Homo sapiens: one gene and its partners. The protein of the gene in region 5 purifies or fractionates together with the protein of the main gene of each other region. This does not show direct contact. Each region holds a gene or a part of one and is shown on either strand. Other genes may lie near its edges. The genes, in order: ITM2B, BRIP1, MOCOS, NOCT, CRTAC1 and VPS13A.

What was found.
Region 1: the proteins of CRTAC1 (region 5) and ITM2B purify together in Homo sapiens (co-immunoprecipitation; one large-scale study listed by IntAct). This does not show direct contact.
Region 2: the proteins of CRTAC1 (region 5) and BRIP1 purify together in Homo sapiens (affinity purification with mass spectrometry; 2 studies listed by BioGRID and IntAct, with this or other methods). This does not show direct contact.
Region 3: the proteins of CRTAC1 (region 5) and MOCOS purify together in Homo sapiens (affinity purification with mass spectrometry; 2 studies listed by BioGRID and IntAct, with this or other methods). This does not show direct contact.
Region 4: the proteins of CRTAC1 (region 5) and NOCT purify together in Homo sapiens (affinity purification with mass spectrometry; one large-scale study listed by BioGRID and IntAct). This does not show direct contact.
Region 6: the proteins of CRTAC1 (region 5) and VPS13A purify together in Homo sapiens (affinity purification with mass spectrometry; 2 studies listed by BioGRID and IntAct, with this or other methods). This does not show direct contact.

Annotation. Positions count from the first base shown.
Region 1 is NC_000013.11:48,249,497-48,254,598, forward strand, and holds part of ITM2B (integral membrane protein 2B), read left to right. Parts: intron 1-4,311; coding exon 4,312-4,440; intron 4,441-5,102. UniProt on the Homo sapiens protein: Plays a regulatory role in the processing of the amyloid-beta A4 precursor protein (APP) and acts as an inhibitor of the amyloid-beta peptide aggregation and fibrils deposition. Plays a role in the induction of neurite outgrowth.
Region 2 is NC_000017.11:61,800,330-61,805,431, reverse strand, and holds part of BRIP1 (Fanconi anemia group J protein), read left to right. Parts: intron 1-3,957; coding exon 3,958-4,179; intron 4,180-5,102. UniProt on the Homo sapiens protein: DNA-dependent ATPase and 5'-3' DNA helicase required for the maintenance of chromosomal stability. Acts late in the Fanconi anemia pathway, after FANCD2 ubiquitination.
Region 3 is NC_000018.10:36,196,597-36,201,698, forward strand, and holds part of MOCOS (molybdenum cofactor sulfurase), read left to right. Parts: intron 1-2,093; coding exon 2,094-2,160; intron 2,161-3,086; coding exon 3,087-3,728; intron 3,729-5,102. UniProt on the Homo sapiens protein: Sulfurates the molybdenum cofactor. Sulfation of molybdenum is essential for xanthine dehydrogenase (XDH) and aldehyde oxidase (ADO) enzymes in which molybdenum cofactor is liganded by 1 oxygen and 1 sulfur atom in active form.
Region 4 is NC_000004.12:139,013,856-139,019,653, forward strand, and holds the start of NOCT (nocturnin), read left to right. Parts: upstream 1-1,925; 5' UTR 1,926-2,126; coding exon 2,127-2,316; intron 2,317-5,798. UniProt on the Homo sapiens protein: Phosphatase which catalyzes the conversion of NADP(+) to NAD(+) and of NADPH to NADH. Shows a small preference for NADPH over NADP(+). Represses translation and promotes degradation of target mRNA molecules.
Region 5 is NC_000010.11:97,869,248-97,874,349, reverse strand, and holds part of CRTAC1 (cartilage acidic protein 1 isoform A precursor), read left to right. Parts: intron 1-2,771; exon of another isoform or gene 2,772-5,102.
Region 6 is NC_000009.12:77,316,035-77,321,136, forward strand, and holds part of VPS13A (intermembrane lipid transfer protein VPS13A), read left to right. Parts: intron 1-139; coding exon 140-372; intron 373-1,571; coding exon 1,572-1,664; intron 1,665-2,200; coding exon 2,201-2,557; intron 2,558-3,537; coding exon 3,538-3,639; intron 3,640-5,102. UniProt on the Homo sapiens protein: Mediates the transfer of lipids between membranes at organelle contact sites. Binds phospholipids. Required for the formation or stabilization of ER-mitochondria contact sites which enable transfer of lipids between the ER and mitochondria.

The DNA of each region.
Region 1 (5,102 bases), on a different chromosome or scaffold from region 5:
GCCACCCTCTAATTAGTTTAAATAATTTGACTTTCTTAGATTTTCTACATAGACAGATTATTTACAAATAATAACAGTTTTTTCTTTTTTCTAATACCTAATCTTTTTATTGTTTGTGTACTTGCTGTAGGATCTCTAGTACAGTGTTCAGTGGAAACAGTCAATTTTAGTGGGCATTCCTGTATTCCTCAATTAAAAGGGTATGGTGAAGTATTAAAGTTTCACCATTAAGTATGAGGCTTTCTATAGGCTTTTGATTATTAGCCTTACTGATGTTAAAGAATTTCACCCTTTGCTAGTTTGCAAAGATTTTTTTTTAATGGAAGTTGAATTTTGTCAAATACATTTTCTGTATATTTTGAGATAGTCATGGGGTTTTTCTTCTTAAATCTCACGTGGCTTTTTCTTTAAGTAAAGCTTACTCTTTGAAGTGTTAAAATTTAATCACTCTAAAAACACTTTTAATAAATCTCTTAGATTAAAAACTTTTAAATCTTGAGCATACTTTAATCCCTTCTCCATGACTCGGATTGTATTATGGAACATCATTTATCTATCATACGTGATGTTAATTCTTGACTATAAATCGCTCAAAGTAGGAGCCATGTCTTAATCACATTTGATTTCCCACAGGATCTAGCACAGTATATTGCAAATAGCAAGCCTTACTTAATAAATGCTGAACTAGGCTACTGCTCTTGCTAAATAGCCACAGTTTGTTTTACGTTATGAATTATGTTGCATCTCTCCCTTCCCTTATTATCACGCTGGCTGCTGGTATAACTTTTATGAATCATAAAAAATTAAATAACCAGGCTTTTTAAAAAAATAGATCTAAGTTGGCCGGGTACGGTGGCTCAAGCCTGTAATCCGAGCACTTTGGGAGGCCGAGGCGGGTGAATCACGAGGTCAGGAGATTGAGACCATCCTGGCTACACGGTGAAACCCTGTCTCTACTAAAAATACAAAAAATTAGCCGGGTGTGGTGGCGGGCGCCTGTAGTCTCAGCTACTCGGGAGACAGAGGCAGAAGAATGGTGTGAACCCAGGAGGTGGAGCTTTCAGTGAGCTGAGATCGCGCCACTGCACTCCAGCCTGGGCAACAGAGCGAGACTCCATCTCAAAAAAAAAAAAAAGATCTAAGTTTTATTCACTCATCAAATATATGAGTGCCAGCTAATGCCAAGCCTAAGCTTGGCTTGGAGCTACCAGTAATGCAAAATGAATATGAATGGATACTTAAAAGATCTTATAGCCTAGTAGAGAGAGATAAGATCTTTATGTGAATTATTCTCATGAAAGAAAAGTGATAATTAGGAATTTAGAGAACAAAGATTAGATAGACTTTGAAGATTAAACAGCTCTTCTATGAAGTACATGATGGTGGTGCATAGGTTTGGGGTCTATAATTTGGCTGACCAAAGACTCTTGTTTATTTCCTGATTCTTAAGCCACGTTTCACGTTGTTGAGGTGCTGAATAAATTGACCTGTGGATAAGTGAAGTATTTGTAAGTGAAATTCCTCAAGAAATTGAATTTTAAAAAAATATTCAATAGTGCTGAGAAGTGATTTTTGAATGAACATGAGAAGTCAAACTCTAGCATGGTTTACAAAGGTCTTTTGTGACCTGCACCAGCTTCTTGTCCATCATTTCTCATACTCATCTCCACCATATTGGGCACTCCAGCCAAAGCACATGTGGCTCTTGGAAATGTCATGCATTTTAGCTCCATAAATTTTGAAAAATCATTGCCATATATAAAATTTCCTTTAACTCTATCTTCTGCTGAGGTAATGAGTATTTGTCCTTTAACATTCCACTAAAGTATTTTCTCCCTTGGGAAGTCTTCCTGAAACTCATCCCCTCTTATGTGCTCTCTGTGCATTTTCCTATTAGAGTTTGTATCATATTTATTTTCTTTTTGTATATTTATCTGTTTTCCGGACTGATCTAACAGGTCTCTTTCTTGGCAGAGCATACATTTCCAGTGCCTAGCACAGCTCTTGGCACATAGTAGACATTTATAATTTATTCTCAAAATGATTGTTGAACAGTTAAAAATGATATATTACAATGCCTTGAAACTTGTCATCAATTTGCCAGTTGGGGCTGCGTATTCTTTTACAGATGTCTGCCTGTGCTGTTTGGCTATTCATTTATGTACTATTGGAAGAGAAAGCCTGCCAAATGGGGTGGGTGTGTGCGCACATTTGGCTGTCCCAGCAGCTGATACCAAATGTTGGAAATAACTATTTCCATCTGTCATTTTCATCCCCCCCACTCTCCTTCCACTCTAAAATTAATTATGTTAGGAATGATTTCTTACCTCCTTAGATATTTATGTCAGACAAGGGCTCAAGCAAAAGATGTATACTTCGTCATTAAAGTTTCATAATACCTTATGACTCCATGGAATTCTTGTAGCTTTCTTTTCACAGCTGGGATATCTTACATGGCTTGCTAAATTCTTCAGACTTATTCTCATTACATACTTTTCTTCCTTGCAATACGCTCATTGTCTTTCACACATAGTATATTGACAAGTGCTACAGAAACCATGACATTCTCATAGCAATGCACTGATTCTTAGAATACACATTGTTTGTTGTTCAGTGTTAAATTCTATGTTTGAAATCTCAACCTAGGAACACACTGTATCGTATCACATTGTTCTTGGTTGCTTCAACATCTGGGATTAGACCTTTTTCAGTTGTATCATGTTAAAGTTCCTCATTTTAGAATTAAAAACATATAATCTTAGGTTTCATTCGTAACTGAATTCTTGCTTCAACCAAATCTATGTTCTAATACCGGGGTCCCCAACCGCCAGGCCACAGACCAGTACCGGAACTGGTCTTGGCTAGGAACTTGGCTGCACAGTGAGCATTGCTGCCTGAGCTCCGCCTCCTCTCAGATCAGCGGGGGCATTAGATTCTCTTAGGAGCGCAAACCCTATTGTGAACTGTGCATGTTAGGGATCTAGGTTGTGCGCTCCTTATGAGAATCTAATGCCTGGTGATCTTCTGAGGTGGAACGGTTTCACCCCGAAACCATATCCCAACACCCCTCAGTCTGTCTGTGGAAAAATTGTCTTCCACAAAACTGGTCCCTGGTGCCAAAAAAGGTTGTGTAGTGCTGTTCCAATGACCGATCCTGTTTTTGTGCATCATTCATAGTTTTTCTTTCTAATTTTATATCCTATTATATAGGTTTAGGTGAAGTCTGCTTTCTGCCTTAAGCCTACTCCATAGTGGGTTTTCCAAGTAAAGGACAGAGTCATGTACTTCAAAGAGGCTGTTCATGTATACTATGAATTTTTGCAGTCTTTACTATTTATTGAGTGACTACTTATTTAAGTATCTTTGTTTTCTTAGCTCTTTGCACATGAACTTGGGTACAAATCAGAAATTTGCTGTAATTCTAAAGTGACAGATTAGAGGGATCAGGTTAGAAGGGCACAGGGAGGGAATATCTAGGAATTATGAATGTCATGACCCCAAATAATGTTCTAATGCTAAATTGTTTTCTTAAGTGGATAGAAATGAAAATTTTATAAAATTCTGTGCTAGTTTTGTTTCTTGAATTTATCAGTAAATTTTTATCATTGAATATGTTCTCATTTTTTTCTACTGCTTCTATCTTTAAAAGAAAGTGAAGAATTTTATCAGACCATGGTTTAGGGTAGAGCAGTGGCATAATAGGATTATGTATTTCTATGTATATAATTTTGTCCTATTTTTTGAAATTCTAATTGTTTAAATAATTTTAGTATCATTGTTTGTTCTTTTCCTTATTTTCCTGTAATTTTTTCTTGTGGATGGTTTAGAATAGTTTTATACCTGGTATGAAATATAAACCACCTGTAGCAGGCCTAACACATAATTTCATAAATGATCAGATAGAGAGATGCCCTGGATTTATAATGTACAAGGCTCATCATCATATTATGTGACTAAGTTGTAGCATAACCTCTTCTAAATTATTAAATTATAGAATATATCACCAAAAGTTGTGCATGGAAAGTAAAAATTATGGAGTGTATCATTGCTTGAGGCAGGGTTAGCAGGTAGGGTGTTGAGATTAGAAGTAGACAACTCTCCTAGAGACCAATGTCCCAGTCCAAGAACCATTAAGATGAGCCCTGGAGCTACCACTTAATCATTCCTGGGTTGATTTTGATGAGAGACACAACTCCTTTGGTCTTTGTGTCTTCATTTATTAAAATGATAATCATTAAGGTTTTTCTAGTCCTGAGCCTTCTGTTATTCTGTCTGGAGATAAGATATTTAACTGTCTTTTTCATATTTTAGGACCCAGATGATGTGGTACCAGTTGGCCAAAGAAGAGCCTGGTGTTGGTGCATGTGCTTTGGACTAGCATTTATGCTTGCAGGTGTTATTCTAGGAGGAGCATACTTGTACAAATATTTTGCACTTCAAGTAAGTGGAAAAATTATTTTGTGTCTCTGATTTTTTTTTTTTTTTGCCTCTCCCGATGTGCATTACAAAATTGTTTACAACTTGCGCTAAGCTTGTACTTTTTATCTGTGACCTTCAGCCAGAGTGGTAGTTCTATTTTAAAGCTGTGTTTAAACATCTCTCCATGATATGTTTGCTGAGCCCATCACACACAGTCACTAAAAGCAGAGTAACTTGAAATGTTGGTGACTAAGGGATTTATTTAGGTCATTGGGTGATTTTACTAACCTTTATTTTCCTACTATAATTAAGGGTTGAGAGGAATAGTATTATCAATTGCCAGTTGAATAAATACATCAGCCACAAATGTTTTCATGTTGATAGGCCATAACTTGATAGTCAGCTTGGACTCCCCTATGGTCCTGCTGTACCCTTGGGCCCAGAATACAGTAAGACCATGTCTCTGCTTCTTTTCCAGTCATGGTTTCACTAAAGAACTGGGTGACTTCAGCAGTGATATTGAAATAACATAGGATGAAAGTTGTTTATAACTTTGAGTGTTTAATAGTAATCCCAGTGGGTTAAGACAAAGGTCTTCCTTGTGATTGATTATAATTTACAATCTATTTTGTAATATATTTCTCTTGGCAATAATACACAATTTTTTTTTTTAGGAGTTTTGA
Region 2 (5,102 bases), on a different chromosome or scaffold from region 5:
TAAGAACAGTAGAGGTTAGAGAAAGTGAGTGAAAATAATGTAGAAAATGGCCTAAATAAATATAGTTAGATGAGTCCTTTCCTCCTAATTTTTATTTTTAATACTTTGGAGGACTAACAGGTATCATCCTTTAACATGGCTGAATACAAAGCTTTAGGAGAACTGGTCCTCAGCTATTCATGTCTTGTCCTTTGATTTGCTGACATTCTTTTATAGGTTATGAATCTCTTATGGTTTACTTTGTTTCTAGCAATATCTAGATACATTTGTGTATGTATTGATGTATGTATGTTTTGAAAACACGGATTCTCCTTTTGGATAATTCATAGATAAAAATACATGTAAAGATTATATATATGCATATATATGTGTGTGTATATATATACAATTTAATTTATTATACAGACGTATACAAATACAATTTAATTTTACACACACACACACACACACACACACACACACACACACACACACACAGAAAGAGAGAGACATTTCATCCTGCCTTGGCTTCTCAAAGTGTTAGGATTATAAGCATGAGCCAGTGCGCTCAGCCTGTAATGAAATCTTTTATTTCCAGTAATACAATGGCAAAGGACATTAGTAGATAACCTAAAAGAAGAAATTCAAATTATTGCTGAACCTTGTTAGACTAATTATTTTTATATTTTATAATTTTAATAATTATTAGACAAAAATATTTTGAATATATATATATGGGGAAATTATTATGTATTTGTAAAAAATACATTGGCCGGGCATGATGCTCATGCCTGTAATGCCAGCACTCTGGGAGGCTGAGGTGGGCACTTGAGGTCAGGAGTTCAAGACTGGCCTGGCCAACATGGCAAAACCTGTCTCTACTAAAAATACAAAAAATTAGCTGGGCATGGTGATGCGTGCTTGTAATCCCAGCTACTTGGGAGGCTGAGGCATGAGAAGTGCTTGAACCCATATGTATATATGTATGTGTATGTACACACACATACACACACACACACACACACACACACACACACACACATATGTATATAGCTGCCTCAAAGTCTTTTATCCCTGATATAATTTATATATTTTATGTATGGTTGTTTTTTGTTAAGGATAGCAAACTAGGAAAAATAAATATTTTTATTTCAAAATCGTTTTAAAATAAATAGTAGAATTAATTAAAATAAAAGTGGCCCATTATTCTACCACTTAGTTCCAATGACAATTGAAAAAGAGAAGTAGTACATGTATGTGGTTAGAAAATGAAAAGAGAGGCTTTTTCTAGATCCTCCATCTCCTTAATCCTTTAAGGTAACTACTGTAAGATTTTATATATCTATTCTACCAGAATGTTTAAAAAATGTATTTGCTATAATGTATGTGCACATATTCTTTAAAAAAGCAATTTACATGAATTTAATCATTCTATACACGTTATTCAACATGTTTTTCTCACTTAACATAGAGAGCCTAATCAACACATAGACAAATCTAAATCATTTTTAAGGGCTAAAGTTTTTGTATTAATTTACCATAATTTATTTAACATGTCCCTTATGGGTAGACATTTGGTTAATTTTCAATTTTTTGGCTATTTAACAGTACAGGGTACATCTATTCACATTAATGGTAAAATTTTAAATTTTGGTAGTTTTTTGACAAATTGCCTATGTACTTCTACTACTAGAATTTTATACTTCTACTAAAAATATATATACTTTTCTAATTTTGTACATTTTTAATAGTATATGAGACACTTGTTAGGGCTGGGTTTTATCAAACATTTTATTTTTTTATTAATGCACATAATGAGTATTTTTTTTTGAGACAGGATCTCACTCTGTTGCCCAGGCTGGAGTGCAGTGGCGTGGTCACTGCTCACTGCGGTTTAATTTTTTTTGTTTTTTTGTAGAGATTGAGTCTCCCTGTGCTGCCCAGCTGGTCTTGAACTCCTAGGCTCATGCAGTCCTCCGGCCTTGGCCTCTCAAAATGTTGGGATTATAGGCATGAGCCACTGTGCCCAGCCTGTAATGAAATTTTTTTATTTCCAGTGATAGAATGGGGTGGAGTGCAGTGGCTCATGCCTGTAATCCCCAGCACTTTGGGAGGCCGAGGCAGGCGGATCGCTTGAGTTCAGGAGTTCAAGACCAGCCTGAGCAACATGACAAAACCCTGTCTCTACAAAAAAGGAGCCATATGTGGTGATGCACTTGTGGTTCCAGCTACTTGGTGGCTGAGGCACAAGAATTGCTTGAACCTGGGAGGCGGAGGTTGCAGTGAACCAAGATTGGATCGTGCCACTGCACCCCAGGTGACAGAGTGAGACTCCCATCTCTGAAAAAAAAAAAGGTAATAGAATGGCAAAGGGCATTAGTAGATAACATAAAAGAAGAAACACAAATTACTATTGAACCTTGTTAGACTATTCATACAACACTATGTTAAACTTTGCTAGAAACTATAAAAAATACAAATCAAAACAAGATTCTATTTTTTACTTTTAAGATAGAGATAACAAAAGATAACACCAGTGTTGATAAGGATGTGGGAAAAGGGTAATGCAAAGCAATATATACTTTCTGGAGGATAATTTCACTATATGTTTTCAAGAAACTTAAAAATACCTTGTAGCGTCTGATCCCATAATGCCATTTCTAAAAATATAGACTAAGAAAATATTTAGAAACCAGCATAAGAATGCTCACTGCAGCCTTATGTCTAAAGCAGAAATTGGTAACAGTCTATAAGCCCAGTAATAAGAAAACTGGTTCATCAGCTATGGCACATTAATTCAATGTACATATATGAGCAGCAACGAAAAGATGCTTAGTGATGTCAAGATTTTCCTTGTATGATTTTTAATACGCTAGACAGAAGAAAACAAAGGGAATATGCTTTATAAAAATTTTTGTTTATTGTGGCTGAATTGTTAATAATCCTCAATGCCTGGGGAACATTTGCTTTGTTCTTGTTTTTATTACTATTTAGAGATAGGGCTTTGTTTTGTCATCCAGGCCGGAGTGCAGTGGCTTGATCATGGCTCACTGCATCCTCGAACTCCTGGGCTGAAGTGATCCTCCTGCCTCAGCTTCCTGAGTAGCTAGGACCATTGATGTACGCCACCAATCCTAGAAAATTTTTTATTTTTTGTAGAGACAGGGTTTTGCTACATTGCCCAGGCTGGTATCAAACTCCTCACCTAAAACAGTCCTTTTGCCTAAGCCTCCCAAAGTGCTCACACCTGTCATCGTGCCTTGCTTGTTCTTGTTATTTTAATATTGGGTCACATTGTAGAGATATCCTTATATACACATGTATAGAAGAAATATGAAATGAAATACACCAAAATGTTTCTAGTGCATTCTTTGTGTAATAGAATTATGGATAATTTAGGCTTTTTTTGGTACTCCTGAATATTTTGTAGTGAATACTCTTACTTTCTTTTTTTCCCCTTAGGACATTCCAACCTACCTACTTACCTTCCTTCCTTCTTATTTATATTTGAATAAGAAATACTATCACATGGCTCAAAGTTGAAAAGGTACAAAAGGGTCTACAGAGAAAAATCTCTCACTCCTGTGCCCAGTCACTTAATTCTCATCCTTGGAAGCAACCAGTGATACCATTGTTTTGTGAATCCTTTCAGAAGTATTTCATGCCTAACATCAGTTTAATCAGAAAAAAAAAGGCATAACAAACATATTTAAAAGAAATTTTTTTCAAGTTAATTTAGGGTATTTGGAGCTCTTCCGATTTGGACTTCTATCTAAGTCTGAGTCAACCAGACTTCGTTGTGATTGTAGCTATGGTATTGTCTCAAAAAAGACAAAAAATTAGCCAGGTGTGGTGGCGTAGCCAGTAAAATCTTAGCCTTGTGGCTTTAATGATGTTCCTCAAATTCTGAGATAAGCTTATTTTATTCCTTCTATGCTAATATTGGTTCACATTTCAGTTATGCATATTTGTTTCTAGGGAAAATCCTGCTATTTTTATCATGGAGTTCATAAAATTAGTGATCAGCACACATTACAGACTTTCCAAGGGATGTGCAAAGCCTGGGATATAGAAGAACTTGTCAGCCTGGGGAAGAAACTAAAGGCCTGTCCATATTACACAGCCCGAGAACTAATACAAGATGCTGACATCATATTTTGTCCCTACAACTATCTTCTAGATGCACAAATAAGGGAAAGTGTGAGTATATGTGTAAAAATGAGAACCTTCTTCCTACTCATGGAGATGTAAATGTTGAATGTAAAAGCTTTTAGATGTTTTAATTTTTTTTGCTTTAATTTATGTAAATAAATTTGTGTAAACATATTAGAGTACTGAAAACATATCCTAACATGGGTTAAAATCAACCCACTCATTTTAATTTCCAAAATAACAAGCAGTTTTAAGGAACATAGTGACTGAAGTGGGATTACAGCAGGATTTCTCTTTGCATTTATGAATATTCAAAAAGAATTATTTAGAAACATTTCTCTGAAAAAACTATGTTTTGAAGAACTTATGTGGGGGAATAAAATTATGCCTTGTGAGCTTTGAGAAGTGAACTTCAGATAATGGCATTTGTGTTTGTTTGCCTGGTTCTTTTTAGAGACATGCAATTGTTAACAGCATAAGACAAAAAGTGAATAATTTGGCATAGTCAATTGTTATTCCTGTCTTCAGATCTGACTGCACAATTCATCTCAGCTTTCTATTTCTTTAAGATCCAAATTAATAGGCATTATGTTTACTACCCCTTCTATCCTACCTCTTATTTGGTTATCTCTTAACTAGATCTCTTCCTTCTGAGACACTGTGCATATCAATGCCAGGTCAGTTTTCCAAATATTGCTTTTATTACATCCTTTTATCTGCCTAAAAATCTATTGCTTCCTTTGCTCATGAGATAAAGTTCATATTTCTTAAGCTTACACTCAAGATGCTCAATAGTCTGACCTGGATCTGCCCAATTTGAATCCTTCAAAAATTACCTCATACTCCCTTGAGGATACCTTGTTCTTTACTCTATCTTTGCTTTTGATGACACCTCTTTGGAATGCCCTGTCCACTCTTTGTCTGTCCAAATCCAAATCCTACTTATCTTTTAAACCCCAATATATTTCCTA
Region 3 (5,102 bases), on a different chromosome or scaffold from region 5:
CAGTCTTCTGGGAAGGTGCCAAGGAGGGATTTATCCTGATTTTAATCTGCAGTTTGCAAAGGTTCTTGTAATTCTCCTTCTTTAACCTTTGCAAGAGCCATAACCGTGGGAAAGCCTGAGAGATGGCAGAGTTGAGATTGCAGGTGGTGGTAATGATGCAGCGCTAAAGCCAAGCAGAGGAAAGGCAATGAGGATAATTACCAGGTCCCACAGGTTACTAGCAATGTGGAAACAGAACATATGGTAGCTGCAGTGGCCAGAAATCCAGTGCAATCTTTCAGTGTATTTTGGAGGAAAAAAAAAGTCTAAAACTAAAGGGCAAATTCTGCGTTAATGAGCACATGTAGCTCCTGAGAAATGCTGGTGCCTGGTCTTATAGGTCAGGCCCTACCAAAGCCTGTCTGGGGGTTAAGTTTGAGGGAGGTCATGATACTCTGGGACACATTTGGTGAGGACACCAGGAAGGGAGCAAAACTAGAAGTTAAGAGGAAGAGTGACATTGGGAGGAGGGCCTTCCTCCTTGAAAGTGGATGGCTAAGGGCAGCACAGTGGCCCCCTTCACATATTTGGAGGCCGGGATCAATTATTTCTGCAGGAAAGGCATCAGCAGTGGTGGTGGGATCTGCAGGGCAATACGTGGGGACTTAGATTAAGTGGCGTTCATGGCTCTGCTTCATGCTTGGAGAAAAGGGCATCCTCCTGAGGCTGTATACTGCATTCTCTGGAGTTAAACAGAGCCACAGCCACCTGTCTGGAACATGTAGAACAGACTCTTGCACTGGCCTGCTTCTGAGCTGACTTCCAGCTCTAAAATACTCTTCCCGATCACATTTGGTTTTACTAGTGAGGAGAGATTTTTTTTTTTAACTATATCATAAAATTTACCAGCTGGGTACAGTGTCTCAGGCCTATAATCCCAGTGCTTTGGTAGGTCAAGGTAGGAGGATTGCTTGAGCCCAGGAGTTCAAGACAACCCTGGGCAACATAGCAAGAGCCTATCTTTACAAAAAACAAAAATTTTAAAAAATCAGCCAGGTGTGGTGGCACATGCCTGTTGTGCTAGCTATTCAGGAGGCTGAGGCAGGAGGAGCCCTTGAGCCCAGGAATTCAAGGTTATAGTGAGCTATGATCAGCCACTGTACTCCAGCCTGGGTGATAGAGTAAGATTGTGTCTCTCTTAAAAAAAATCTATTTCAGGTGTCCAATGATGATTTTTTAGTGATTGACCTAGTGATGCAATCATCACTATAAATCAGTTAGATGTTTTCATTCCCCTGAAAAGATCCTTCATGCCCATTACAGCTAATCCTTGTTGCTGACCTTACCCCCAGGCAATTGCTAATCTACTACTTTCTGTATCTCTACAATTCTTTTGCTGGACATTTAATGTAAATTGATTCATGCATTATGTATATTCTTGTGTCTGGAGTATTTCATTTATCATGCTTTTGAAGTTCTTTCATGGCATAGCCAGTAGTTTGTTCCTTTTTATTGGCAAATAACTTCCCTGGCTGGGCACAGTGGCTCATGCCTGCAATCCTAGCACTTGGGGAGGCTGAGGCAGGAAGATTGCTTGAACCTAAGAGTTCAAGACCAGCCTGGGCAGCACAGTGAGACCTCATCTCTACAAAAAGTAATTTTAAAAAGTTAGCCAGGTGTAGTTGTGCACACCTGTAGTCACAGTTAGGAGGCTGAGATGGGAGGATCGCTTGAGCCCAGGAGTTTGAGGCTGCAGTGACCTATGATCATGCCACTGCCCTCCATCCTGGGTGATGGAGCAAGACAGAACAAAAAACCAAATCACTTTTTATTTTATGGATGTAGCATATTTTGTTTATCTGTTCACCCATTGATGGACATTTATATTGTTTCCAGAATTTGACTTTCTGAATAAAGCTACGAACATTCCCATGCAAGTCTGTATGGACATAAGTTTTCATTTTTGAGGGATAGAAATCTAGGAGTGGAATTGTTAGGTGATATGGTAGTTTTATGTTGAGCTTTTTGAGAAACTGAGGGAGTGGATTCAGAAGGAACACAAAAGAAGCGACCCTAAGTAGTGACTTGGTGGCCTTGTCTTTGTAACCTGCCAGGTAATCCTCACAGCCAGAACATCAGCAGCAAGCTCACCCATGACACTGTGGAGCAGGTGCGCTACAGGTAAGCATCAGGGACACCTGCCTGACTGGGCATACCTAGGCAGACAGACTTCCTTCCTAGGACTTGCCTGCATCCCACAAAAGTTCTGAGTTGGTTTCAGGAGGATCACAGTTGGCTAAAAGGCAATGCATGTATGTTGAGAAACATCAGAGTCAGAGCTCAGAAAGGCAGCGGTGAGTAGATGCAGTGTGGGGCAGATGAGACACACAGGTAGGTGGCTCTGAGGTGCACACAGCTGTTCTGTGTGGCTCCAGAGACTCTGCAGTGCCAAAGTGACAGGAAGTGACCCAGGATCCTAGGTCTTGTTTTCAGAAAGAAGAAAAGTACTATTTCTCTGGTTTTCCTTTTCATAAGAAGTTTTATTAGGCAACTTGTTTTCTTCCTGTCTTTTTTCCCTTTTCCCCCCTTTTTTACTAGTATTTGTATGTTAAACAGCTCTCTATACTTTCTAAACATAACAGTATCTGGCAAATAATTTCCAGGTTGTCCTTAAAATTATTAACACAATTTCCAATCACACAATTTCAAGTTAGTTCAAATGTGAAAGTGATACTGTTTTGCTATTAGAGTTGCCAAAACTAAAAGCAATGTAAACAGGTTGATTACTACTTAAACCTTGTTATGTTAGAGCTGAGCAGAAAGCACCAAGGAGAGAAAGTAGTATCAACTCTGATTAAGTTTATTGTGGATTTTTTGTCATACATATCCAATTGGAGATATCCAGTGATATTTGGGAGGTAAGAGGATTTTGCCAACTGGAACTCGTTCCCACGGCTTCCATTGCCCTCGCCCTAATTTCGCAGCTGTGGCAAACCTATCTATCCATTAAGGTAGAGATGTCATAGTTAATAGAAATAAAACAGCCTGCAAACATTCAGTGCTGGGGCTGAGATCCGCGGGTTGCGGGGATGCTGTGCTTCTTCCAGAATCCTGGCGCACTTCCACACCACCGCAGAAGACTACACTGTGATCTTCACTGCCGGGAGCACGGCTGCTCTCAAACTGGTGGCAGAGGCCTTTCCATGGGTGTCCCAGGGCCCAGAGAGCAGTGGGAGTCGCTTCTGTTACCTCACCGACAGCCACACCTCCGTAGTGGGTATGCGGAACGTGACCATGGCTATAAATGTCATATCCACCCCGGTCAGGCCAGAGGACCTGTGGTCTGCAGAGGAACGTAGTGCTTCAGCCAGCAACCCAGACTGCCAGCTGCCGCATCTCTTCTGCTACCCAGCTCAGAGTAACTTTTCTGGAGTCAGATACCCCCTGTCCTGGATAGAAGAGGTCAAGTCTGGGCGGTTGCACCCTGTGAGCACGCCTGGGAAGTGGTTTGTGCTGCTGGATGCAGCCTCCTACGTGAGCACCTCGCCTTTGGACCTGTCAGCTCACCAGGCCGACTTTGTCCCCATCTCCTTCTATAAGATCTTCGGGTTTCCTACAGGCCTGGGCGCTCTGCTGGTCCATAATCGTGCGGCTCCTCTACTGAGGAAGACCTACTTTGGAGGAGGGACAGCCTCTGCGTACCTAGCAGGAGAAGACTTCTACATCCCGAGGCAGTCGGTAGCTCAGAGGTAACCTTGCCACAGGGGAGGGGTCAGAGGAGTTCAGCAAGGTGGGGTCTGGCCTGTTTCTCCTGGAGGATTATGCAAGAGGTGGGTCTGGCTTTGAGGGTCAGCAGAATTCAGGTTGCTGGCAGGGACAGGCTGATGGCAGGGCTCAGATCTGGGAGGCAGAAGTTGACTGGAGGTGACACAGGTGTTCAGTGAACTCTACCCCCATTTGAGAGGCTTCTCCAGAGCTGTGAGAGGACTGGGGCCTGCAGATAAGAACTGCACACAGGAGAGATAAAAGGCCCTCATGGGGTAAGGAGGGTGAGCTACCAGGCCTCTGCCCTCAGCACTGACAAGAGGTTGCAACAGTTGAAACAGTGGCCTTAAAAGGTGGCACCCAGTGGCTTTAAAAGGTGGCACCATTTGGAAAAAGTCTGCCCACACATTGACAGCATAGCTGGTTCTCCAGGAGCTAGGATCAGCTCAGCCTGGCACCTAGTTAGCAGGAGGAATCAGTTAAAGCAGAGGCCCCCAGACTTGTGAGGCAGTGTTAGCGGCAACCTCTATGAGCCCCACTGTGAGTGAGTTACAGAGGGAGTCTGGGTGCAGGTTGTCACTTGCCCTCAAATGCCAGAGGCCTCTGCCTGGGTTGTTGGCATATGCATCATCCCCAGGCTGCAAGGGCAGGTGGTGTGGGTTATGCTCAGGACTCTTTCAAATGGTAACAGCTGGGACCTGTAAGGTCGAGTGTGTCAAGGCTGAAAATGGTGGCTGATCCAGGGTTCTGCTGGGTCAACAGTGGGGACACAGGGTTGGGTAGGCAACTAATCACCTCCAGGGTCCGGAGAAGGCCTGGGGCATAGACGGGAAGGGCTTTAGATCCCCAACAGACCCCACACAGACGCAAGGGTCCTGCACGTAGGGCCATGGCCTTGACGATAGAGTCAGTGTTAGCTGTGTAAGCCTCAGGCTGGACCACTGGGGAATGAGTCCCCGCTCCACTGCACACCAGCGAGGGGACATGTGACTTGTTCTCTGCACCTCATGTTTTTTCTGTAAAGTAGAAATGATAATATTGGGTCGGGTGTGGTGGCTCACACCTGTAATCCCAGCACTTTGGGAGGCCAAGGTGGGTGGATCATGAGGTCAGGAGTTCGAGACCAGCCTGCCCAACATGGTGAAACTCCGTCTCTACTAAAAACACAAAAATTAGCTGAGTGTGGTGGTGGGTGCTTGTAATCTCAGCTGCTCAAGAGATTGAGGCAGGAGAATTGCTTGAGCCCAGGAGGCAGACGTTGCAATGAGTCAAGATCATACCCACTGCACTCTAGCCCTGGTGACAGAGCAAGACTCCATCTCCAAAAAAAAAAAAAAAAGAAATGATAATATTGTCCT
Region 4 (5,798 bases), on a different chromosome or scaffold from region 5:
TCCCCTCCTTGTAAGACCAAAAATGTAACCACCTGAACAGACCCTTTCACAAGATAATGTGCAAGTTCATCCCTGTGCCCTGATCCATTCACTTTCCCTAGTCATCTCCTCAACAGAATGCCTCTGCTCCCCTCTCCCCAAGTCTGTTGGCCAGGATGGTAGACAAGCTTCTGAACCCCGTTGGGGGTGTGTAATCACTCTGTGATTCTCCCCATGTACATGTTAATAAATGCATATGCCTTTTCTCCCATTAATCTGCCTTTTGTGAGTTGATTTTTCAGCAAACTTCAGAGGGCAAAGGGAACATTTTTCCCATGGTCCCTATACCCATATATACCCACTACCTAGATTCAAAATCAACATTTTGCTATATTTGCAAAACACTTTTCATAGGCTAATTTTATTATCACCTTTTTAAAAAAATTCTTTTTACAAGTACTGCTCCTTGTGGAGCAGGACTACTCGATAGACAGTGTGCCCAGAGTAGCTTATTATCATTTTTTATTTCACCTAATGACTAAGGTATGATTCTATGTTTTATAGATAAGGAAACTGAAACTGAGGCTTTAATGACTTCCAAGGAGCTTGTCTGCCAGAAGTTGTAATCAACTTGTGCCAGCTGATCTGTCCACACCCTCTATCCACAGGTGTTAGATATGTAACCTAGGTCTGAAAAATATTTAGAATATTCTTGTGATGAAAAGCTTGCAATTCCACAACACAGGGGAATCAGCAAAATCATGGGAAAACCAATAGAATACATTTCTAACTCATGAATCATTCAGAGAAAAATCCAGTCTTGGGTTTTCCCTCCCCCTCATCCCATTTCTATTCCTGATTAGTCATCATTTCCTGCCCAGCCTGTCTGAGATGTTTCTTCCATCCTTTCTTTTCCAGTAACAGTAACCTGGTGCGGGTCTACAGTATCTGTTATCTCAGCTGATTTCCTTTCTGCCTTTTCATGAACCAGAGACATGTGATTTCCAATTAAAGCACAGCCCTGACCATGTCTTTGCTCAGCTTACAAAACGTCAACGGCTCGCAGCTATCCACCGAATTAAGCCTACTATAATCCCCTTCCTTCCACACTACAACCTATCCACGCATCTGTCCTCTTACTCCTTAGCTTCCATCTTACATGACTAAGAGTTGTTTCCCCAAATACACCCTTATTTACTTTTTTCATTTATAACTCACCACCACCCCCTCCAAAGTTTCACGTGGGTAAATTCTAGACCTCCACGTCATAGGCCAACTCAAATGCCAATCCTTCTAATGAACCTTCTAGAGAGCCCGGGCCTGTTGTCATCTCTATAGCCAATCTTTGGCATCTTGTGGCAATAATCTCATTCTACCTTGTAGAGCTTTCTGGTCTGACTTCCCTTGCCACCTTCTGCTCCCTTTGCCTAAGTATAACACTTTTGAGGAAAAGAACGCTGTTTTAATCATCGTCGCCTCGCCCACAGGCGGTGCTTTATTGTGCTTAATATCGTTTAACGCATCACACACTGCCGAGGGGGTCGGAGGCGGACGCCTTTTGCTGTATCCACACAGACCCGCGCAGGCACACACGTAGGCCGTCTGCCACTCTGACAGACACGTGTCCCCTGGGCCACAGCCCTGGAACTGTCTCGGGATTCCCAGCCTGTGGGCGCTTCCATGCTGGCCAGCGGAAGGGGACGCTTTTTTCTTCAGAACAGCTCCAACGGATACCTCTTATTTTAGACCGCCTGCGGATTCTATCTATAAATCAGCCTAAGCCCCGCTTCCTTTTAAAACAGGATTACGCCGGGTCGAGGGAGCCTGGCGTGGCCGCGCAGTGGCCGGGTCCCGCGGATTCCCCTCCAGCTCCCGCTTGGTAGCGCCCGCTTTGTCAGCGCGCAGCGCTCGCCGGGCGCCCTGCAGGTCTCGCCAGGTCTCACAGCAGACGGTGCCGACGCAGCGGTGTTGCACCTCCCTCTCCGGCTCTGCTGCCCGGGATTTCCCCAGAACCTGCGCCGCGCGAGAAGGAGCCTGGGAGCATCCGCCCACACTGCCCGGACAGTCGGCTCGACTCGGTGCCCTCGGCCCCAGCCGGGCTCCGCTCCTCGGGCGCGCGAGGGGCCGTGGTGGCGGCGGCGCCCGGCATGTTTCATAGTCCGCGGCGGCTCTGCTCGGCCCTGCTGCAGAGGGACGCGCCCGGCCTGCGCCGCCTGCCCGCCCCAGGGCTGCGCCGCCCGTTGTCCCCGCCGGCTGCTGTTCCCAGGCCCGCATCCCCCCGGCTGCTGGCGGCGGCCTCGGCGGCCTCGGGCGCCGCGAGGTCGTGTTCCCGAACAGGTGAGTGCACCCCAGTTCCGGGCGGAGAACGCCACGGCCGCCAACGCGCGGCCGCCACCTGGAGACCGCGCGGAATGAATGAGAAGCCCGGGGCTGCCGGTCGTGGAGTCTGGCCTGAAAGTGGGTCCTTTACCGGAGCAACCTTCTGCGTTCCCTTTTTCCTCTTTCCCTGTTCCCCGACTTGCCTGGGGCTTGCATCAAAGCTAGTAAGAACTGGGAGACTGTATTCAGGTTCCCGCTTGACCCTTAGAGGCCATGCTTTCAGAATTTCTTGTTCTTGACCGTTAAATTTCCCCCTTCCGAGGCCGCGAGTTACTATGTTGGTTACATTTTTTATTGCACGACTTAACGGAAATTTTTATGGAAAAAAAAATCTAAATGATGCTTATTTGCTTATATAGCTTTCATGGTCTAGATATTAAGTTTTTTTTTTAAGTCGTGATAATAACACATTGATTCGTTTTACGTTGTTTTTTTTTTTTTTTTTTTTTTTTTTTTTTGAGATGGAGTCTCACTGTGTCACCCAGGCTGGAGTCCAGTGGCACGATATCGGCTTACCGCAACCTCCCGCTCCCGGGTTCAAGCGATTCTCCTGCCTCAGCCTCCCGAGTAGCTGGGATTACAGGCGCCAGTCACCACGCCTAGCTAACTTTTGTATATTTAGTAGAGACGGGGGTTTCACCATTTTGGCCAGGCTGGTCTTGAACTCCTGACCTCGTGATCCACCCGCCTCAGCCTCCCAGAGTGCTGGGATCACAGGCGTGAGCCACCGCGCTCGGCCATTTTACGTTTCTTTGGATTTTTTTTTTTTGGAGGCTTCCACTCTTTATAGTTAACATCATTTTTTGTCCTGTGTATCTAAGATCTTGTAAAAGTGAGGCCTTAGTTTCACCAAGAGCTGTTTTCATACATCATAATAACTACCCTGAGTTTTCCTTTTTTGCTACCTCTGTTTCTGCCTGGGCACACATTACCATGGCCACAAATTACATACAAATTAATTATACTTTAAAAATTGATAAATTTTTTCTTTCAAAACTAGGCAATACATAACTTTTTTTTTTTTTTTTTTTGAGACGGAGTTTTGCTCTTATTTCCCAGGCTGGAGTGCAATGGCGCGATCTCGGCTCACCGCAACCTCTGCCTCCCGGGTTCAAGCGATTCTCCTGCCTCAACCTCCCGAGAAGCTGGGATTACAGGCATGCGCCACCGCGCCAGGCTGATTTTTGTATTTTTAGTAGAGATGGGGTTTCTCCATGTTGGTCAGGCTGGCCTCGAACTCCCTAGCTCAGGTGAACCTCCCGCTTTGGCCTCCCAAAGTGCTGGGATTACAGGCGTGAGCCACCGCCCCCCCGGCCTATAAAATTTAAAAAAATAGGCCGGGCGCGGTGGCTCACGCCTGTAATCCAGCACTGTGGGAGGCGGAGGCGGGTAGATCACCCGAGGTCAGGAGTTCGTGACCATCCTGGCCAATGGGCTTGGGCGTGGTGGCACTCGCCTGTAATCCCAGCTACTCTGGAGGCTGAGGCAGGAGAATCACTTGAACCTGGGAGGCGGAGTGTTGCAGTGAGCCGAGATCGCACCATTGCACTCCAGCCTGGGTGACAAGAGTAAAACTCCGTCTCAAAACAAAATTAATAAAAATTTTAAAAAATGTATATATTTTAAAAATGGTCATCTGGAATGTGATTGAAGCCAAGACTTTAAACTATTCGCATTGTTGGCAGATATTTAGGTATTTCCCAATCTAGTATCAAACTCCTGGCCTCGAGTTATCCTCAGACTCTGGAGCAGTTGAGATTTGCAGGTGGAAGCCACCATGCCCAACTTAGTCATTTTAAAATTAGGATGTTGAATTGGTTGCTGGAGATTCTGAACTATATTGTTCCTTAGAGTGAACTTGACAGTTAGATTCCCCACCCCCACCCCCAATTTCGTAGGAATGTGGTACATTGTGAAATAACTGCCAGAATGAGTATATTGCCTGATAACTTTTTTCTTGCTGGAAATTTTAAGAACAACATTGTTAGAGGTTTGAGGTAGGAAAAGTAAAAGAAAACCAGGTGATGTCTTCTGTACCAGCTTATATCTTAAATTCCCTCAAAGTCTCAGAGGCAGGGTTAGTAGGTACCTCCTCATGGGAATACTGTTAGCTTGTGTAAAACATAGATGGCTGTGTTATCTGAGTAATTACTGTTATCTGAGTAATAATATCAGGTCAGATTGGAATGTTGGGCTTTTGACCCAAGAAAGTGTTTAATGAACTTCTTTTAAGAAATCCCCTGAAACCCCCTAGTTTTACAGATAAGGAAATTGAAGGACTTTATGGTACTTAAACTTTTGTAGGCAGTTACTATAAAGTCTAGACAATTTTCCTGTTCATGCATTTTTAGCTTCAGCAGCTTGTTGGAAGAAACATGCCTGCATTGATTCATTCATTGCTTGTTCACTCATTCCAGATCTTTACAGAATGTCTCACACAATGTAGGTGCTTTATTATGGGAGTTAAAAACATGAGCTTTAGTCAGTCCCTAAGGAGTTTACTGCCCAGTAAGAGATGAGATTTGCACAATGAAATGGCTGTTTAATGAAATGAAACACCTTTTATTCTCTTGACTTGGAAATGGCACAAGGGTGCAGGAAAGCAGGAAGTCCCTTTTGGGCTTCTAGAAATGGGTGGCATTTCAGCTGGCTCTTGAAGCATGGTTAGGATTGGAAGAGATTACTATAAAGCGTTTTGTTTGGAAAAAGCAGGAGTAAATGCAGAAAGGCATGAGACACACACAGATGAGGAAGGGTGAGAGAAGAGGCACTTTGCAAAAATGGACATTGTTTTCCAAAGAGCCTCAGACCCAGCACTAAGTGCTTTTTAATTTTAATTTTTATTTTTATTTTTTTTGAGACAAGGTTCTCTCGCACTGTTGCCCAGGATGGAGTGTAGTGGCGCCACCTCTGCTCACTGCAACCTCCACCTCCCAGGCTCAAGCAGTTCTCCTGTCTCAGCCTCCTGAGCAGCTGTGACTACAGGCACACGCCACTGTGCCGGGCTAATTTTTGTATTTAGTAGAGACAGGATTTCAACGTGTTGCCCGGGCTCGTCTCAAACTCCCCAGCTCTGGTGATCCACCTGCTTTGGCCTTCCAAAGTGCTGGGATTACAGGTGTGAGCCACTGCGCCCAGCCTATGAAGTGCTTTTTTAAAATGCAGATTCTTGGATCCTACTGTAGACCTATTAAGTCTGAGTCATTCATGATGGGCCCTGGATTCCACATAACCAAATGAAATGACAAAAAGAATAACTCCAGATTGTTCTTCTATGCCCTCAAATTTGGACATCTGGCACCCATATGTGAGAGAGACATTGAAGGGGCCAAAAGCTCCTCTCCACTCCTGAGCCTTGTGGTGGGGAGTAGTGAGTCCCGACAGCTGTCCACATTTGCTAATCAGTTCCTGCATAACTTATGCCCCTTGGCAATTGGTAG
Region 5 (5,102 bases):
CATGGACTGGGCCATACAGAGCAGAGGTCACCAGGAGCTAGTGAACTGGCCTGGGAATTTGGCCCTCAACAATCACAGAATCCTAGAGCTTTAAATCCAGGAACACCTGAGAAGTCATCTAGTCCTCTTCCCTCCTTTTCAGACGTGGAAACCAAGGCCCAAAAAGGAGCTGCAACTTTCCCAAGGCATCTGCACCCCCGTCTGGTCCTTTTTCCTGCCGGGTTGCCGGCTGCTCCTCAAAAGAGCTCAGCTCCAGGCTGCTCCCAGCACCCTTCTCCAGAAAGCTCCAGGTATTCCAGAAGCCCAAGTGTATGAACAAGATCAGGAATAAGAGAGGCAGGGCTTATCCTTCCCACTTTGCTGACATGGAAACTGAGTCAGGATACGTGCCCATCAAGTAACAGAAGAACCATACTTGGTCCTTAGAACTCAGCTGGGATTAAATACAGATCTGAATGGGGGTCCCGAGTGCAGAGAGGAGCCTGTTCAGCTGTGAGGAGGGAGGCAGGGTCAGGAGAAGGGTGCGGCAGATGGAGAATCTGTATCACCCGTTCCCAGAACGTCCCGCCCAGAACCTCATGCCCTCAGCCTGCCTGCCAGCAGGAAAGCAGTCTGGGGCCAGAATAATTCCCCTAAAGCTAGCTGGTTCTCCTTCTTCATGGCCAGCCCCAGAGCAGCCAGGAAGGATCTCATCCCCTAGAGTCATTTAATGCACCCTCCCCACAAATCTAAGGGCTAACTTCCCTCCCTCCACCCCAGACCTGGCTGTAGAGCTCCTGGAACAGGAAAAAAGCACATCCTCTTTCCCCAACTGCTTATGGAGACCATGGCAGAAGGACAAGTTTAGGCCAAAGGAAGGAAAGTGAGCCAAACATACACCCTCTCTGCAGTTCAGATCCCCAGACTCAAGGTTTAGAGCCCTCGAAGGCTGACACAGAAGAAAGAGGGAGAAGGAAGCCTGGGGCTGCCCTCGTGTCACCCAGTCATTGGAAAGTCTCAGTGCCTCCTCCCACTGCAGAAGGTGTCTCACATGTGCCAAAATGCCATGTTCGTTCTTAGAGCTGTGCACAAATCCTATGGCCCTCCCCTCTCCCTTCCTTTCAACTGTCCTTAAAATTTTCCCTTCACACTGAAACTCTGGGATCAAATGGACTTGAAATCCAGACCCTCCACCCAGGCATTTGGAAGTGGCCTTAAGAAGTTGTTTCATCTCTGAGCCTCAGTTTCTTCATCCACAAAATAGAGGCAGTGATAAAATCCTCATAGAGTTGTTGTGAGGCTTCCTCGAGCCTATAAGGTACTTGCTGCAGTGCCTGACTGATGAAATGCAGATATTGTCATAAAATCTGTGCCAGGACGTTTAACCTCCTGGTTTCACTTCCAGCAATGCCTGACTTTAAAACAATCCATAAGCCATTAGCTGGGGCAATATTAGACCTATAAGGATTCTTCCCAACAAGACACATCCATCACTCAGAGTTACAAATGCGGAGTTCATCTGGGGACTGGGATAGCACGGCATCTTCCCTTTGAAGAGCTCCAGCCCTATATTTAGATCTGCACTGGGGAGCCCAGGGGCGATCGGTACCCATCCATTCACCTGCCTCTCCAGGGTCTGCGAGCATCCATCTCAAGCCAGGCAGGCCTCTCGCTCATCTCTGATCTATCAGTCATCTCTCTATACCCATCTTCTCTGTATCCATCCACTTATCCAGCCAGCCAGCCATCCAGCCAGTGATTCACTCACAGTAATTCACTCTCTAGGGCCTGAGGTCCAGATCTCTCAGGTAAAGAATTCAGCACCAGAAGGATTTTCCCCACCTCAAAATGGTGTTTGGGGAGTGTCAGGCAGGGCCGACTGGGGTGGGACACACGCTTCCTCCCCTCCTCTCCCAGGATAGGTAGAGGTCATGAGCAGAGCCACAATGTCACAGCTAGGGCAACATCACTGAGAGCTGCTGCCCAGCTCAGGGGGTAGCCTGGGGTCACTGCATCCATCCTTTAATTGAGTTATAAGGTGACCACTTGCAGGTGAATTGTATCCTTCAGTGACCACTGCCTATCTGCATGGTACTGAGCTGCTTCTCAGTGGCACCTTGCCCTAGGGGTCTGCAGATGACACATCTGTATAGGCCTGCCTCTTCCTGCCAACCTGAGATGGGCAGCATCTTCCATTCACCTGGCCAGGGCCAGGCCCTGAAACAAGCACTCAGGATAGGGGGAGGTGGGGGTGGGGGTGGGGAGTGAGTAAGACAGGCTCCCTGCCCTTGAGAAGTGTACTGATTAATTGTGGGCAGCAGGGAAAAGGACCCTCGCAATCTCTGAGGTCTTGTAAGCTGTGTGTAAGCTTGTGTGTAACATTGCCCCCTTCTTGGGGCCTCACTCAGCACTGTTCTCAGGTGATAGCTGGTTCCCAATCACTTTTCCATTACAGAAATCGATAACTTGAATTACTCCAAAATAACTAGTACCTTCATGCCCCTGCAAAGCTAATTTTTCTGGGGATGCATTTGCCCACGAGTTTCTCTCTGGTCTGGAATCTGTCTTCTATCTTTATGAGTCAATCCAGGTAGAACACTCTCTCTTCTCCCACGTCTCACTCTTGTGGCAGAGTGAGAGTGGGATCTGGAGTCAGAGACTTAGGTTCAAGTCTTTGCTCTGACACTTACTAGCCCTTGTCAAGCTACCTAACCACCTAGAACGTCAGTTTCCTCATCTGTAAAATAAGATTTCAACACCCCAGTGTTCGAGAATTAAATGGAATAATAATGTACATGAATGTTCCTGGCATTTATTCGGGAATCAGTGAACCCTTGGATAAATATCTGTTTATTCTATGCCAGAATCTGAAGCCTGCTATAAATCTACATCATGAGGCCATCGTATAACGAGGTCCTAGTATCACTTCTGCAATAACAATATCTTACATTGGAGAAACAGATGATTATTTATAAATATACACATTCTCATAATGACAAAGGTGAGACTCAGGAAAGTTAAGTGAATTGCTGGGGGTGGGAAAGGGGGCAGCTGGCACAGCCCTCTGACTCTCTTCACAGTTTCCCACTTCCTCCATTGTCCCTGATTCAAAACCCGACGCAGCTCCAGGATCCTGCATGCGAAGTTCTGCTGTCCAGCAGATGCTGAAATGACAGGCCCTTTGAACATCCTCTTGGAGGAAGAGTTGTGAGCTTGGTGCAGGCTGCCCTTGGCACTGCCAGGGGAATAAATCCTCCTAGAAGTCGCCCGAGAAGGCTCATGCGGAAACCTCCGAAGGCTGGGCTCTGAAAGGAAGGAAAGAAACCGACATTACCAAGCATCTCTTTCATGCCAAGCACATTCATGGCCAGTTTCTTACTGACTCCTCAAAACCAATTGTTCTTAACCTTTTTAGGGGGTTGCATACCCCTTTGAGAATCTGCTGAAAGCTGTAGATGCTCTCCTCAGATAACGGCACATAATATGCACCTGAATGCAGTCGGGTCGAGGTTAAGAACTCCTGGTGTGAACCTGGGCTGTTTTCAGATTTTCTTAGGCATCAGGGACCTTCCCTTTTAGAGGGCCCACCCACAGCAGAGCAGACATTACATTTTCACACACACACACACACACACACGTAACATAGAGTTGCAGTTGTCTGTTTGGCATATGTGTTACATTTCCAGATATTTAACAAAACGTTAATTTCAAGTGTGTCCTTTCTTTTCCTATTTTGTAGCCAACAGGCTTTTCTGGTGAATTTTATTGAAATATATCACCAGTACAGACAAATACACAGCTCTTAAGTATACAGCTCAGTGAATTCTCATGAAGTGAGCACCCCGTGTAACTGGCACTCTGATCAAGAAACAGAACATCCTGAGCTCCCAGAAGCCCCCCAGGTCCCCATCCATTCGCTACCCCCGACCCAGGGTAATCTTGATCCTGACTCCCAATCAAAGGCGAGTTTGGCCTGTCTTTCAGTTTCATATAAGGGGAATCACATGGTGCATATGCATTTTTGTGTCTGGCTGCTTCTGTGGAACCATAAACTTCTTATTCAGGTCTCAGGCATTTTCAGAGGTGTATTAAAGGCTTATAGGCTATAGGTACTGTCAAAACCAGGGATTCTCAGCCTTACCTTCACATTAAAATCACCAGGGAAACTCTTTAAAATCCTGATGCCCAAGCTGTCCCCCAAAACAATTAAATCAGAATCTCTGAGGATAGGATCAGGCATTGGTGATTTTTCATGCTTCCAGTTGACATCCATTGCCACCAAGGTTGAACGCCTCGGGTCTAAACAACTCTGTGAGATATTAGTCTCCCTATTTAACAACTGGGGAATCTGAGGCTCCAAGAGTCTTCATGTGTCAGTGTCATGAAGCCAGAGCTCAAATTCAGATCTGATGTGGAGTGGTGTTTGCCTTGCCTTATCCCTGGGTGAATGGTAAAGCCCAAACCAGGTGGTGATGCCTCCTGTCTGGGCCCCCCTCATTGTGAGTCCTTCTAGAGGTGTGGAGAGGGATGTGGAGTTTCCCAGGCTCGACAGCCCAGGGGCTGGCCCTAGGGAGAAAGTCACCAGACTCCACCTTTGCCCCACACCTCTGGAAGCCACAGAAAAGTCCCTGCGGGTGGCAGTGGCTGCCAACCGGGGAGCCGTGGGGGACGTGTCACAACAGCCATAGTTCTTTCTGTCTCCACCTTTGATTCCCCGAGTGCAGTGCATAATCCTGCCACTCAGTGGCACCTCGAGCTTCTGTAAACCCTGTGGTTTCACACACACCCGCCCTGTGGCCAAAGGAAGGAAGCCAGACAGCAGGGTGCTGGCGCAGGGAGAGGAGCATGTGCAGCAGGAGCTTCCTGAGGCATGCCTGAGTGGCTGGGGCCTCACTTGGGACCTCGGGGACAGTCTGGCTGAGGCTGGAGCTGCTCCTGGGTCTTGATGGGGCCTGTCCCTGGCTGGCAAGGTGGGTGCAGGGACATGGCTACAGCCAGACCCCGGAGAGACAGGCCACCACCTGTAACTAAGCCAGCAGAGAGAAACCACACCTCCCCAGGCCCACAGTGAGTCGAGTCCCCCACTACCCTTCACCGGGCTGCCTCTGGGTCCCGCATGCCTG
Region 6 (5,102 bases), on a different chromosome or scaffold from region 5:
AGGGTTGTAGTTGATTCCTTTGGGATCTAAGATTCTTTTGTTTTACTTTTTACTATTATTTCATTTTAATATTTTCTTATAAATAATAAATTATTCATAATATATAGCAAATATTTTAATCTATTTTTATTTGTTTTAGTACCTACACAGGAATCAGTGAAGTGGGAAATTAATGTTATTATTAAAAATCCTGAAATTGTGTTTGTAGCTGACATGACAAAAAATGATGCTCCTGCTTTAGTCATTACAACACAATGTGAAATTTGCTATAAAGGTAACCTTGAAAATAGTACAATGACTGCTGCCATTAAAGATCTCCAAGTGAGAGCCTGCCCGTTTCTTCCAGTCAAGAGAAAAGGCAAAATCACTACTGTGAGTTAACTATTTGATCATCTGCTTAATTGTAACTATTTTGGATGTAGTGTATACCATTTTAGGAAACAAAAACTACCTACATGCTTTCCAACCTTGCTCTGTAAAATGTCTTTCTCTCTGCTTAGAGAGCTTAATTTAGAATATTATTTACCAGCTTTGAAACTCTTTCATTCTTCCAGATGCTGCTCATTATTGTTAGTATTTGTGGGAATATTGTCACTAAGAAGTTGGGTTCATCTTGACAGTTTTCAGTTAAGATCTACTTTGACTTTCTAACCATGTCAATTCCAAATTGCTCTTTGGACTTTTAAGACTTTCTGCCAGTTGTTTGCTGTGTTGTTTCAATTTTATTGTTTCAACTTTTTTCTCCCGTTTGGATGTTTTTGCTCAAATAATGAGTTTTTCCTTGTCTCCATGTAACTTCATTTGAACCTTCAGCCATTTGCTTTGACATACTTCACATTGATATTTTACTCTCTAGTAACCTCTTGGCCTTCCTCCTCTTCATAACTCTACTTAAAATTCATTCCTTTACAGACATCTTTTCAAGTTAACTGGCTGACTTCCAGCGAATACTTACAAAAATATTTGAGCTTCTGAAGGAGTAATAGAAGCATAAGTTTTTGTTTGTTTCTTTGTATTTTTTTCCTGATGCTTGGTATGCATCTATAGAAGCATAAATGTTCTAAACATTGTCACCATAGAAATATAAGATGTAATTTTGATACAATGAATACATATATATTAGGATATAAGATAAACTGTTGCCCAAATTTGCAAGACAGTTGGCCCTCCACTAAGCAAAGAGAGAGAATAGAAAATGGAGGGTATACCAATTCTCTCTTAGTTTTTGACTTAGAAGTTTTAAATATATATTTCTTCTATTCACATCTTTTTTGGCTTGAATATAGCTGTATGACCACACTTTACTTCAGTAAAGGTTGGAGACTGTGGTATTTTTTTCTGAGCTACCTTGTGCTCAGATAAAACTTCTATTACTGTGGAAGAATAGAACAGATATTAGGTTCTAGATGTCCTTTATATGGGATAATTAAGGAGTGTATTATTAAGTCACTTTTTAAATAGTTGTTTTTATTAACTTGTTTATTTGACATACCTATTACTAGGAAAGTCTTTAAATAGAAATATTTTTATATTTAAACATTAATTTAGTGGTATTGATTTTTCTCTCATAGGTTTTGCAGCCCTGTGACTTGTTTTATCAAACTACTCAGAAAGGTACAGATCCACAAGTGATCGATATGTCAGTAAAATCCCTGACACTAAAGGTAAATTAAAATATAATCATTTGAATATTTAGTGCACTTAAAAAAAGTAGTAAAGCCTAGAAAGTTATTATAGCAAGTCTTTTAATTGTTATGCAAACAAAATAGGTGTGTTTTTGAAAATACGTTTTTATGAGATATTTACAAAGTAATATTATTTAATACACATTTTATGAATGTTATTCTATATTTTATTATTTACATTTGTGTGGTTAACATCTAATATCCCTAATAAATATTATTGAAATTACTTTATACTTCATCAGTTTAATAATATCTGCAATTCATGTATATTAATAATATCATGTAATTCATGGAATAATATCTGCAAGATTCATGTAAATATCTGCAAGATTCATGTAAACACATAACAAGAATTATGGTAATTTAAAAAATTTTATAAACAATAAATTGTATCTTCTATTTTGTGGTAGTAATGTTAATTCAGTATTTAATTTCTCATAATATATATTTAATATTTCTTGACGTAGTATGTTTGAAAGTGTTTTGTATAGACTTATTAATTTTTTTCCATTTAGGTTTCACCAGTTATTATAAATACTATGATTACCATAACTTCAGCACTGTATACAACTAAGGAAACCATCCCAGAAGAAACGGCTTCTTCTACTGCACATTTATGGGAAAAGAAGGATACAAAGACTTTAAAAATGTGGTTTCTTGAAGAATCAAATGAAACTGAAAAAATAGCTCCCACAACTGAATTGGTACCCAAAGGCGAGATGATAAAAATGAACATTGATTCTATTTTTATAGTTCTTGAGGCTGGAATTGGTCATAGAACAGTACCTATGCTTCTGGCAAAGTCACGTTTTTCAGGGGAAGGCAAAAACTGGAGTTCCCTAATAAATCTGCACTGTCAGCTTGAGCTAGAAGTAAGCATATTTTTCCAGTTTTATAACAGATAATGATACGTATGGAATATTATGACAGATAATGATACATATGGAATATTATGGAATCTTGTGTAGCTATTTAAGCTTATTGTAAATATGATATTGGGTCAAAAACTTTTAGAAAAAAGTTTTCAAATTTTGCCCTTGAATAATTGCTTTTATGTATACATTCCTTTTACTTTTAAAGTACATGTCCACATTAAGTTTATATTTCAACTGATTTTATCAACTTAAAGATAATATATTATTCGACAGTTGTTGATTAGATTCAGAATATTTTTTTTAAAGAGTTAAATTGAGGCCAGGCCCAGTGGCTCACCTGTAATCCCAGCACGTTGGGAGGCCAAAGCAGAAGGATCGCTTGAGCCCAGGAGTTCAAGATCAGCCTGGGCAACATGGTGAAACCTTGTCTCTACTAAAAATACAAAAAATTAGCCAGTGGTGGTGGCTCACACCTGTAGTCTTAGTTATTCGAGAGACTGAGGTGGACGATCACTTGAGAATACCTGGGAAGTCGAGGCTGTGGTGAGCTGAGATCTTACCACTGCACTCCAGCCTGGGGTTCAAAGTGAGACCCAGACTCAAAAAAAAAAAAAAGAAAAGAAAAGAGTTAAAGTTGAATACCCTTTTTTTTTTAAGGATATAGACAGAATTTCTGAATATGTGGATAATAATCTCTTCTAATAGAAATATGAAGAATTAGAAATATATGCCTTATACTTTTATGTAATGTAGAATCAAGGAAAGATGCTTAAAAAGGGGTTTTATCTGGACTAAATTGTGAAGAGCGAATATGTACTATGAAGTTAGCCAGGTGAGGAAAATGCTGAGGGAGTGCTTATAGGAAGCTACTGAATGGCATGTAGACTGGTTTTTATATAGAAGAAATAACAGGGCTAAAAAACATGGTGGGAAACAGGATGGAAGATCATTTTTAATTTAAAAAATTCTCTCTGTAGGTGCATTATTATAATGAAATGTTTGGTGTATGGGAGCCTTTGCTTGAACCCTTAGAAATTGATCAGACTGAGGATTTTAGACCATGGAATCTTGGTATCAAGGTATATCTATATATGTCTATGTGTGTATATATATATATATGTATTTTAAAAGACTTTATTTTTTTAAGAACAGATTTAGGTTCACAGCAAAATTGAGAAGAAGGAACAGAGATTTCCCGTATACCACCTACTTCTGCACATGTATAGCCTCCCCCTTTATTAACATTCCCTCATCAACGTATATTTGAAGACTGAAAAAATTTTCCAAAATTGAGAATGTTTATACCACACTCGACACTTTATTTTAATCACAACAAGGTTCAGGTTGTCTCATCATGAGCCTTGCCCACATGCTTCCTTGTTTGCCCTCTGAATATAATTTTCAAATCTAAGGCCAATGTTGCCTATGCTTCTAATACAATTATGTAACAAGTATTATGTTACTTGTTACATAATTTAGAACAATTTAGAACATAATTTAGAACACAGTTTAGACATTGTTCTAAATATTTTAATCCTTACAACAACTCTTGGAGGTAGATACAGTTTTTATTTAACATGTGAAGGGACTGAGACCAGGGAGGTTAAGAGACTTCTTGAAGTAATAATAGCTACAAAGTGGAAAAGATGGGATGCAAATCCAGCTGCAGAGGCGTTAAATCCACTCTAAACCACTATGCTATAATGCCTGTGTCATCATCTTGTAGGTTGTTGTCTATCCTGAGTTTCCTTCATCCTTTGGATGTTTGCATGTGTGCAGGAATGTATATTATTTGTTTGAAATATATTGTGGATTTATATAATCATGAGAATCGGGGCCTTTAGGTGGATGAAATTTTGCTTCTGAAGCAAGAGACTGCAGAATTACTCACGTGTTTCCTACCTAATAATGACTTGGTCAACCTGCAGACAGATTTTCAGTGGCTTAAAGCCAGTTAAAGTAACAACAGAGGTGACTAGCTTAGCATGTTGAGCTCTTTTCATATTAGATCACTTAATTTTATTTTCCAGATATTTTAGATGAAGGATATGAAAAGGAATTCCTTGGTGGTTTTTAGGTTAGAATACACATGGTCAGCAGATCTGTGACTCCTAAAAAATGGTAAAGGGTATTGATTCTTATGAGCTCTAGGTTTATAACACTGTTCTGCTACTATTGTCTGCCTTTGTAAGTCTCTAGGTTTCTGTTCTTTATTATTAGCATGACCAATACATTAAGTTACTTTTTTCTGTCTGAGTTTTTATGTTGCTTTGAAGTATGTGCTTTTATATTCAGATCCCGGGTACACATAGTAATTTTAGGTTTTTATTTTTCCTTCTAAATTGTGTCTGCCATTTTACTATCACTGATGATGACATGATTTATTTTCTCTAATACTTCTGTCCTTTATGACCTTAGTTGGCTGATGTCCAAGTAATTTCAATAAGGCAATAGAACTTACTGAAATTAGAAAAGATAAAATGTACTGACCTTTCTAATGTTGGTATTGGGATTTGTCTAGTTATGTTGTGTTCTTAGAATT